3 separate regions of the Homo sapiens genome follow, and all the other regions are reported to be linked to region 1. The links are microRNA targets in miRTarBase. Many come from high-throughput screens and were not tested one by one. Region 1 holds a microRNA gene; each other region holds the end of a gene's coding sequence.
What was found. Region 1 holds the annotated microRNA hsa-miR-4279 (CUCUCCUCCCGGCUUC, at 1,128-1,143, opposite strand). A microRNA usually pairs through its seed, bases 2 to 8, with sites in the 3' UTR of a target mRNA and lowers its output. Matches are read on the target gene's strand: a 7mer-m8 pairs with bases 2 to 8, a 7mer-A1 pairs with bases 2 to 7 and ends in A, and an 8mer does both.

Region 2: miRTarBase lists TOR1AIP1 as a target of hsa-miR-4279. Seed matches in the 3' UTR shown: 7mer-A1 at 1,495-1,501.
Region 3: the mRNA of CAV2 is a reported target of hsa-miR-4279. Seed matches in the 3' UTR shown: 7mer-A1 at 2,056-2,062.

Annotation. Positions count from the first base shown.
Region 1 is chr5:31,934,985-31,938,170 of GRCh38, forward strand. It overlaps MIR4279 (microRNA 4279), which reads right to left and starts at 1,175; the gene lies at 1,118-1,175. All of the region lies in intron 2 of PDZD2 (PDZ domain containing 2), which reads left to right.
Region 2 is chr1:179,917,485-179,920,670 of GRCh38, reverse strand. TOR1AIP1 (torsin 1A interacting protein 1) reads right to left here. Exons shown (of 10, transcript NM_015602.4): 10 at 595-3,186. The coding sequence ends at 2,432. Among named protein-coding and RNA genes, the nearest start is that of CEP350, 36 kb to the left of the region's middle.
Region 3 is chr7:116,505,524-116,508,709 of GRCh38, forward strand. It overlaps CAV2 (caveolin 2), which reads left to right. Exons shown (of 3, transcript NM_001233.5): 3 at 448-3,018. The coding sequence ends at 598. Among named protein-coding and RNA genes, the nearest start is that of CAV2, 7.4 kb to the left of the region's middle.

The sequences.
Region 1 (3,186 bases):
GGTTGAGGCAGGAGAATCTCTTGAACCCGGAAGATGGAGGTTGCAGTGGGCCGAGATTACTCCACTGCACTCCCACCTGGGCAACAGAGCCAGACCCTGTCTCAAAAAAAAAAAAAGAAAGAAAATAGAATGGCTGCAAGAAGTAAACAGAGGATGTTTGCTCCTATTTTGTTCCTTACAAGTATAGCTAACAAAGGACCTTGTGAGTATTGGAATAATAAAATGTCATTCCCATTTAAGTTGCACATGTACATTTTTATACCTGCACCAAAGGTTTTTGGAATCTTTGTCTCTGGCTGTTGGATCATGAAAGACCCCTTTGGCTTCAGCTGTAAAACAAGGCAAATTTTACCCATAATAGAAACTACTATATATGTGTGTTGGTTTAGGGAAGCCTATTTTTTAACATTCTATTTCCTGATAAAACCTTAGAAAAATCATATTGTGTTTAAAAGTTGAGGATTTTTTCAGCAACTCAAGGGCTGACTGATAATTTCTGGTTTTGCTAGTACTTGTCTACAATGGAAGTTGGAAGCTTAGTCGGAGTAGAAAAGTTGTAAATTTGGTGTCATCAAGACAAATGGCTTTTATTTCCCAACAGACTTCTTTATAAAATAATTTAACCCCTTGATTTTTGTTTGCATTTGGATGCAATTTAAAAAAAAATCTGGCCCTTTAATAAGTGCAAGACAGATTAAATGTATTGTGAAATATCAGGTCACTGAGTGGAAAGTTTCTTCACTGATCATCCTAGCTTCACATTTTTAGTTATGTGAAGTACACATTTTGATAGTATTTTGGTTTTCTCCTGCCTGAAATCTTCAGTCCTCCTCCCTGGCAGTCTGTAGAATGAAGCAGCTGTGGTCCGTGGCCAAGTGTGCGTCCTTTGGTGATGGAAGAGCTGATCTGCAGATACCTGCAGGAGGAAGCCATGCATGATGTCTGCTGGGATATGATTTCCCCCCATACTCCTGGAAAATTAGAACCGTTTATAGCAGCCTGGTTCCAATACACTGGCAGGGCAAGGATTGGCTCCTTCTCTTACAAACACAGCGTGGCTGGATGCATTCATAAATGAAAAATGATCTGAGTGCTGTGGGTGGGTGGGGCTCTGGAGCTCAGGAGGTGAAGCCGGGAGGAGAGAGAGAGAATCTGCTCCTCAGCTCCACAGAGCATGGGGAGCTGGCAGGAAGTTGGAGCACGCATGGCGCAGCTTGTATTTTTGTTGATAGTTAATAACCCAGGACTTTAAAGACCTGAATGGAGAAGGGAAGTGAAGCACAACCAACTTTGGAGTCTGTCCCATTCCAGAGGCTGCTGAAGCACAGCAGAGCACGCTCACCTGACCAGCTCATAAAGCAGGTAGGACGGGAGACCTGAGTGGTGAAGAGAATCACATTTTCTCTCTGAACACAACTTACAGGTCTTCCAAGGGTTTATTATTTTTTAATTATATGAGAGATGAGCAGGTAATAATAACATAAAAGACTCAGCTTGAATTGTGCTGATATCTGCCCAAGCAAGAGTTCTCTCAGTTACTAGTGTGATGACCAAATGACAGTTTTATTCTGAGAGTTGCTTTAAAAAAAAAAAAAGAAAAAAAGCATGCAGCATTGAAGCTTTTTTAATTTAAACTCATTTAAAAATTGGCAGATGATAAATGAACTGCAGACACTGTGTTTTAGAACAAATACTTTGAAGGGAGTCAACCAGAAACCGATTTTCAGGCTTGACTGTGGCTCCATTTTCATATTTCAGAGCCAACGAGGTGCTCACTAATTTTTGCTGGCTTTTGTAAGAAAGGAGGTGGATGTATAACAGCTGTGAAATATCCAGAAATTGACTGGGATCCAGAGTGAAGCCCGAATGCACTAATGTTTTCTCCATTAAGGCAGGCTGCCTCTGCTCGGCTTCTAAGTCAAGGGATTGGAAAGCAGTGTGAAAGTGAAGTGTGAATCCTGAATATTTGTCATGGAGTGGGGGGAGTGCAGAGGGTTGGAAACTGTCACAGTGACGTTTCACACTCAGAAGTAGAAAATAAATGGGGAGGACCATGGGTGGCAGCCACATGCAAGGATAATTTTAAAACTGATTTTTGATTCCCATGATTGTAGCCGAGTCTCAGGGTGTTCCTTCCGTTGTCAAGGTTTGGGGCTTGTGATAAGAGAAGTAGAACAGAATAAAGATCATCTCCAGCCCCAGGTTCTGAATCATTTCTAGGCCTTGCTTCTCCTGGGCACTGGGATGATCTGACATGTTTTCCCTCACTAATGAAGTGGCCAGGGTGTTGGGGGATTGGGCTAACATGGAGGAGGTTGGATAGAAATGGTGCGTGTGGTCAGCCTGAGAAGAACGTCAGAGGTAGGTGGAGAATTTTGTTTCGGTAGAATAGCCCAGCCTGAATCCTGGAACTGTTTGCGTTGAGGTTTGGAGAATGCCCCGTAGCCACAGGGGTGTGTCTGAAAAGGCAAAATTGGGAGCTGCTTGGGTTACTGCTTACTGCCTGGCTGGCATCCTCATGCTGTGGTCATCCTCATGCCGTGGTGGCCACGTTTTGTGGCTTTGCATTTTAGTCCTGGAGGGCTGGGGGATGGCTGTGTTTAGTCAAGCAAGCCCACACATCATTGCTAGTCTCTCTTTCCGTGTGATTTCTCAGCATTACACAGCTAGCCTTCTATGGGAGGAGGAACGGCACCTCCTGTGGTCTTTTAGAAAACTTTTTCACCCCATGTTCCTACCGTCGCCACCCCAACTCTTGTCCTTTCTTGCCTACTGTTCACCTGTTGTGTGTGTCCCCTTTGTCTCCCATCCTTCAGACTGATCTGTCCCAGGTGCTATCTGCAGTGACTTAGAAGCTGTGTTGGGGACAGGTTCCTTCCCAGGGTTCCTGCTGGAAGCGGTGTTCAGCAAGCTATGGCCCTTAGGCAAATCCAGACTGCCCTAGCCTGTTTTTGTATGGCCTGGGAGCTAAGAATGTGTTTTATGTTTTGAAGAGTTGAAGAAACAAAGAAGAATATAGGACAGAGATAGTGACCCACAAAGCCTATCCGATCTTTAGAAAAAAACATTTGCTGGTTTGCTGGTTGGTCTGTTGATTTCCGCCCCCATTTAGAGACAGAGTTTCACTCTGTTGGCCAGATTGGTGTCAAACTTTTGACCTCAAGTGATCTGCCCACCTCGGCCTCC
Region 2 (3,186 bases), not on the chromosome of region 1:
TAAAACGTGGATGCTCTTGAGCATGCATTCTCAATGGGGGTGAAAATTGGTTCATTGGGGACAAAAAAAAATTCTATTTTGTATAAAGCAAAAAACATTTACAGTCCATAAACAGATACATAGTATATATCTGGTGTTGAAATATCATGGGGAAGGGGTGACTAAGAAAAAAATCTAAAAAAGTTCTTCAGGGAGGTGATAAAGAAAAGGTTAAGAAGCCAGGTGTAGTGACTTATGCCTGTAATCCCAGCTACTTAGGAGGCTTAGGCAGGAGGACTGCTTGAGGCCAAGAGTTCAAAAACAGCCTGGGCAATATAGCGAGATCCCATGTCTACTTAAAAAAAAAAAAAAGAAAAGCTGCTGTGGAGATTCTTTTGCTAAGTCAGGAATATCTAACTTAACTGTATTTTTAAAAACCCTAAGTGCCGAGATAAAATGGAAAGTTACGGCTATTCCACTTCTAACCAATGTACTTGCAAATGGCTCCAGTTCTTTGATTTTTGTTTCTCCTAGCCAGAGTTGCTACAATTGTTCAAGGAAAATACTTGGATTTCTTTTTTTAAAGATGATAAATCATTAAGTTTATAACACATAGAGAGTATAAACCAAGAAAGTAAATTTATTTAAATTACTAAAATAGCTTTTAAAGTCATTTACAGATCAGCTGCTATAATTATTTTTCCTGAAAGACATAGGTAACATATTACTTTTAAATTACTTGGGTCAATGAAACATTTAATAAAAACATTTGTTTCTCTATATAATACGTATGTATAAAATAAGCCTTTTCAAAAACTCTGGTTTTCATAATCCTCTATAAATCAGATGATCTGACTTCTAAGAGGAACAAATTACAGTAAGGGGTATACATTTATGAATACTGGTAGTACTAGAGGAAAGACGTTAAACCACTCTACTACCACTTGTGGAACTCTCAAAGGGTAAATGACAAAGCCAATGACTGACTCTAAAAACAATATTTACATTTAATGGTTTGTAGACAATAAAAAAACAAGGTGGATAGATCTAGAATTGTAACATTTTAAGAAAACCATAGCATTTGACAGATGAGAAAGCTCAATTATAGATGCAAAGTTATAACTAAACTACTATAGTAGTAAAGAAATACATTTCACACCCTTCATATAAATTCACTATCTTGGCTTGAGGCACTCCATAAAATGTATCACGTGCATAGTAAATCTTTATATTTGCTATGGCGTTGCACTAGAGGACTTGGACTGCAACAAGTGGATGCGCGGAAAATGAAATCTTCTTCAATAGCCCAGGACAGCTGGTTAACAAATGGTTTGTCAATTCCTGAAACTCATTTCTTAATTCAAAACAAAAGCTTCAGGGTGTGTCCAAAATAAACTGTTACGAATTGACCTACTTTTTTTTTTTTGAGACGGAGTTTCATTTTTGTTGCCCAGACTGGAGGGCAATAAGCATGGTCTCGGCTTACTGCAACCTCCGCCTCCCGGGTTCAAGCAATTCTCCTGCCTCAGCCTCCCAAGTAGCTGGGATTTCAGGCATGCACCACCACGCCCAGCTAATTTTTGTATTTTTAGTAGAGACGGGGTTTCACCATGTTGGCCAGGCTGGTCTTGAACTTCTGACCTCAGGTGATCCACCTGCCTTGGCCTGACCTACTCTTAAGACTCAAGTGAACAAATATATTAAATTTTGCAATATACATGAAGAATCCTTGGGACAGCCAAGAATTTTTCTTCAAGGAAGGAAAAAGGAGATGTAAAAAACAAATCCCAACGGAATCCACCAAGATTAACAGTTCATATACCTATGTTTGACTAAACTACATCTCAGTGGATTACTGTAACATTTCCTCCCTTCAGCTTCCCCATTAATTTTCCTTCCTTGCCTTGTTCTTTCCATTTTCCAAAAAACAAAAGAAAAAAATTCCAAACACACACCTAGATGACCTTTCATTACTTATGTTCCTATAGGCAGAAGCTAAGGAACTCACACCTAAATGGTATAAAAGGGAACATAATGGGAAAATCCCTGGTTACATTTAGGGAGCAATCTTACTAATAACTCAGGAAACTTAGTGAGAAATCTAAGTTAAAAAATCAGGAAGGTTCATAAGAAAGGACACAAATCCCTCTCACTGGTCATACCATAACTGTAATAACTCAGCCCAGAATCAAAACAGATTCTCTAAGGAACTGCATATAATCTGCACTCCTAAGATACCTTTAACAGAGCTCTCAATGGAAACTGAAATGATTCTCTCATATCACAGATAATTAGGTTGAATGAATGATTTATATGTTCCATGTTTATGTAAGCACTTAACTTCTTTAAAAAGAAACTAGTTCTTTCAAAAAGAGCTCTGAATTCTGTCTCTGGTTAGAAAGTGTGAACAATTCTCAGAACTTGGGACATGATTTTTCTTCTCTCTCACTTCTTATAAGCAGATGCCCCTTTTCAGGGCATTTTCAGGTTGCACAGGCAGAACTAAGTGAGAAATACGGCTCCAGAGGCCATTCAGTTTGTCTGGGTCCATATGATTGTAGGAGTTGGGTGTGTTAGAATTGGTGAACTTGACTTTAAGAAAATCTCTTACTTTTTCTTCAACTTCCTTTAGGCCTAGACTTGTTCCAAGTGTCTCTTCCTCCAATAAGACAGTCAGGACTAAGGCTACATCTTTGAAGGCCGCGTTTTCATGGTCACAATATTTGTAGAAGATCAAAGTAGAGCCTGCGGGAAATGACTCAAAGCGGTGTACCACAGCTGCATTCTGGCCATTCTTAAATCCATTGCTCAGTTCTTGGTCTACCTCTAGTTTGACAGTATCACTGTCTTGAGTAGCTTTATCTGTCCCATCAATCCGGATGGCACGGACACTACGAAAAGAAGAATAGGCATCAGCAATTTGTTCACTCAGACACCTAAGTGCTTCTTCAGCATCTCGGGCAGCAGTGAGCAGTAAGATAGCAGGCTGAGACCGAGGATGGGAGCTATTAAGATGTTTTTCCAGGAATGTTTGGCTCCTTTTCCACAGCTTCTCATCTTGACCTTGGTACTTATTCTTAAGTTGATTCATCTGGTTCTGGAACTCTTGAACAGCAGTGGTTTCTACCTCAGGAGTACTAAAGAACCAAAAACTCCCAGAGGCAAGAGCAGCTATCAGAGGAAGTAGCCACCACCGGTTCCTCTTGA
Region 3 (3,186 bases), not on the chromosome of region 1:
ACTTTAGGCAAGGACCTCAGGAAGCTTCCACTTATAGTGGAAGGAGAAGGAGGAGCAGGCACGTCACATGGCAAGAAAGGGAGCAAGAGAGAGAATGTGGAGGTCCCAGACTCTTTTAGTTAATCAGATCTCAAGCAAACTAACTGAGTGAGAACTCACGTTACCAAGAGGGTGGCAGGCACTAAGACATTCATGAGGGATCTACCCGCTGTGATCCAATTATCCCCACTCGGCCCCACCTCCAACACTGGGGACTACATTTCAAAATGAGAGTCAGGGGGACAAAAAACCCAAATCATTATCAGTGATCATTGTTCATTTATTTGTTTCAAACTCTCAACCAAATTTAAGTAAATGGGTCAGTATTTTATCTTTTCATACATGTACAAGACAGACCTTATTTGGTAACAGCAACAATCCTCACACATCTCTCTTCCTTCCTTCCAGGATTTTAATGCCTTTTGTAAAGACCTGCCTAATGGTTCTGCCTTCAGTGCAGACAATATGGAAGAGTGTGACAGATGTTATCATTGCTCCATTGTGTACGAGCGTAGGACGATGCTTCTCTTCTGTCAGCCTGCAACTGAGCCAGGATTGAATACTTGGACCCCAGGTCTGGAGATTGGGATACTGTAATACTTCTTTGTTATTATAACATAAAAGCACCACTGTTCTGTTCATTTCCTAGCTGTTCTAATTAAGAAAACTATTAAGATGAGCAACCACATTTAGAAATGTTTATTGACAGGTCTTTTCAAATAATGCTTTTCTAATTAATAGCCAAAGATTTCATATCTAACTTTGTAACCAGAATTATACAGTAAGTTGACACCACTTAGATTTAAAGGCAGACAGTTTTGCTTTAGTACAATAGTATACATTTTATAATGATGAACTTATAATGATTAAGGGACATTTCTATAAAAATACTACAATAGTTTTATGCACAACTTCCCATTAAAAATGAGATTTCTTATTTGTTTGTCTGTTTTTACTCTGGGAGTAATACTTTTTAAATTACCTTTACATATATAGTCACTGGCATACTGAGAATATACAATGATCCTGGAAATTGCAGTAACAAAAGCACACAACGATTATAGTAACTATAAGATACAATAAAACAAATAAATATGAAAGTAGATTCATGAAAATGTATTCCTTTAAAATATTGTTTTCCTACAGGCCTATTTAACAAGATGTTTCATTTTACTGTATATTTTGTAGTTAATATAAATGTTGCTCTAATCAGATTGCTTAAAAGCATTTTTATTATATTTATGTTGTTGAACTAATATATGAAATAAGTAAATGTAGCTCCCACAAGGTAAACTTCATTGGTAAGATTGCACTGTTCTGATTATGTAAGCATTTGTACATCTTCTTTGGAAATAAAAGATAAAAGAGCGATACACAAAGCTTTCTTTTCTAACTTTTCCAAGCAAAATCTAAAATGTTTTATGACATTTTTCTGGCTGTGATCTTAAAATAATTCATATCTAAATAGTATTTTGTCTAGGAGATGCTTTCTCTCTAGTAGTTAGAAATTAAATCTGTGTCAGCATTCCTATTAATGTCTCACTTTACTTTCAAGTAATATTGGTGCTATTTAACATTTTACAGTAAATGTTACTTCTGATACTTTAGTACAATTTCAACTACAGTGATTCATGTAGAGAGACAGGGGAGTTGTCAACTTGGGCTACTGAACTACATGCATAAACTAAAAACTAACAGCTACAAACTTTTAAGATTTCTCTAATATTGGTATGTAACACAGGATAAAGTTATTCTTGTCATTTTGAACTGTAGAGTCCTATTTCAGTGTGATGAATCACTGTTGCTTTGAAAAATCTCATTATTTCTGGGCCGGGCATGGTGGCTCACCCCTGTAATCCCAGCACTTTGGGAGGCCAAGGCGGGTGGATCATGAGGTCAGGAGATCAAGACCATCCTGGCCAACATGGTGATACCCCGTCTCTACTAAAAATACAAAAAAATTAGTTGGGCATGGTGGCATGCACCTGTAGTCCCAGCTACCTGGGAGGCTGAGGCAGGAGAATTGCTTGAACCTGGGAGGCAGAGGTTGCAGTGAGCCAAAATCATGCCACTGCACTCCCGCCTGGCAACAGAGCAAGAGTCTGTCTCAAAAAAAAAAAGAAAAAAAGAAAAAAAGAAAAAAGAAAAATCTCATTATTTCAAAATGATAGACATATACCAAAAACAAGTCTATAATGTGAGTAGTTACTAAAATTTACACATCTTAAAAGTGTGTAAATGCTTAAATTTCAGAATTACCATCAGAACCTCAATTGACATTCCTTTGAATACGCTAATAAGTGACAAATAAGATTAATAAGATTTTTCAAAATCGCCAGGACTGGTGAATATAAATGATGATTGAACTGGAATAATATTGGGGACCAAATCAAATGAATGATTAAATTATGAAGCTCATATCCTTTTGAAGGTAGTTGCAAAGAGACATTTCAAAACTGCCCTAGGCCATTGCAGCATCCTTAGATGGGACGCATAATCATTACCTTAAAGCATCACCACTCATTTTGACCATATAGATTTTATTATGTTAGTTTAAAAGGTCAATCAGCCTCATGACTTTATAGTTATGTCTTGTATTTAAAAACATTTTTTATACATTTGGTTATGTTGATAAACCAAAAACATTTGATTAATAAAATATCTATTTGAATAAATTATGAGCTATCCTTTCAAACAGCTATTGGCAAGTTTTAAACCCAAAATATATACACATAGTTCTGTAATAAAACTGTTTGACTTCTCAAGTAACATGACTTCCTTATTTCTGAACAGTACTGGTTACTTTCAAAATGAATTTTTATTGAGATTTTCCATTAACTATTTTTTTCAAAGACTCAAATTTTGTACCAAGTAAATCCAGGCTTTATGTACAAACATGTTGTTTGTTTTATTTGGGGCTGGGGGAGGTATATGATGAGCAGACTTCTCGGAATTCATAATAAATTTTCTAAAAGCCTACAAATGTGTGTATTGCTTTTATTACAGTAAATATGGAATCTTTCATACTTATTTTTACCTTATTAAAAACTCAAAATAGATAATAAATACATTAGTTATTGCTTATTTGGGAATGTATTTTTAAAAATTATTACATTAGTAGTTGAATTCTTTGTTTTCCAGCACTTA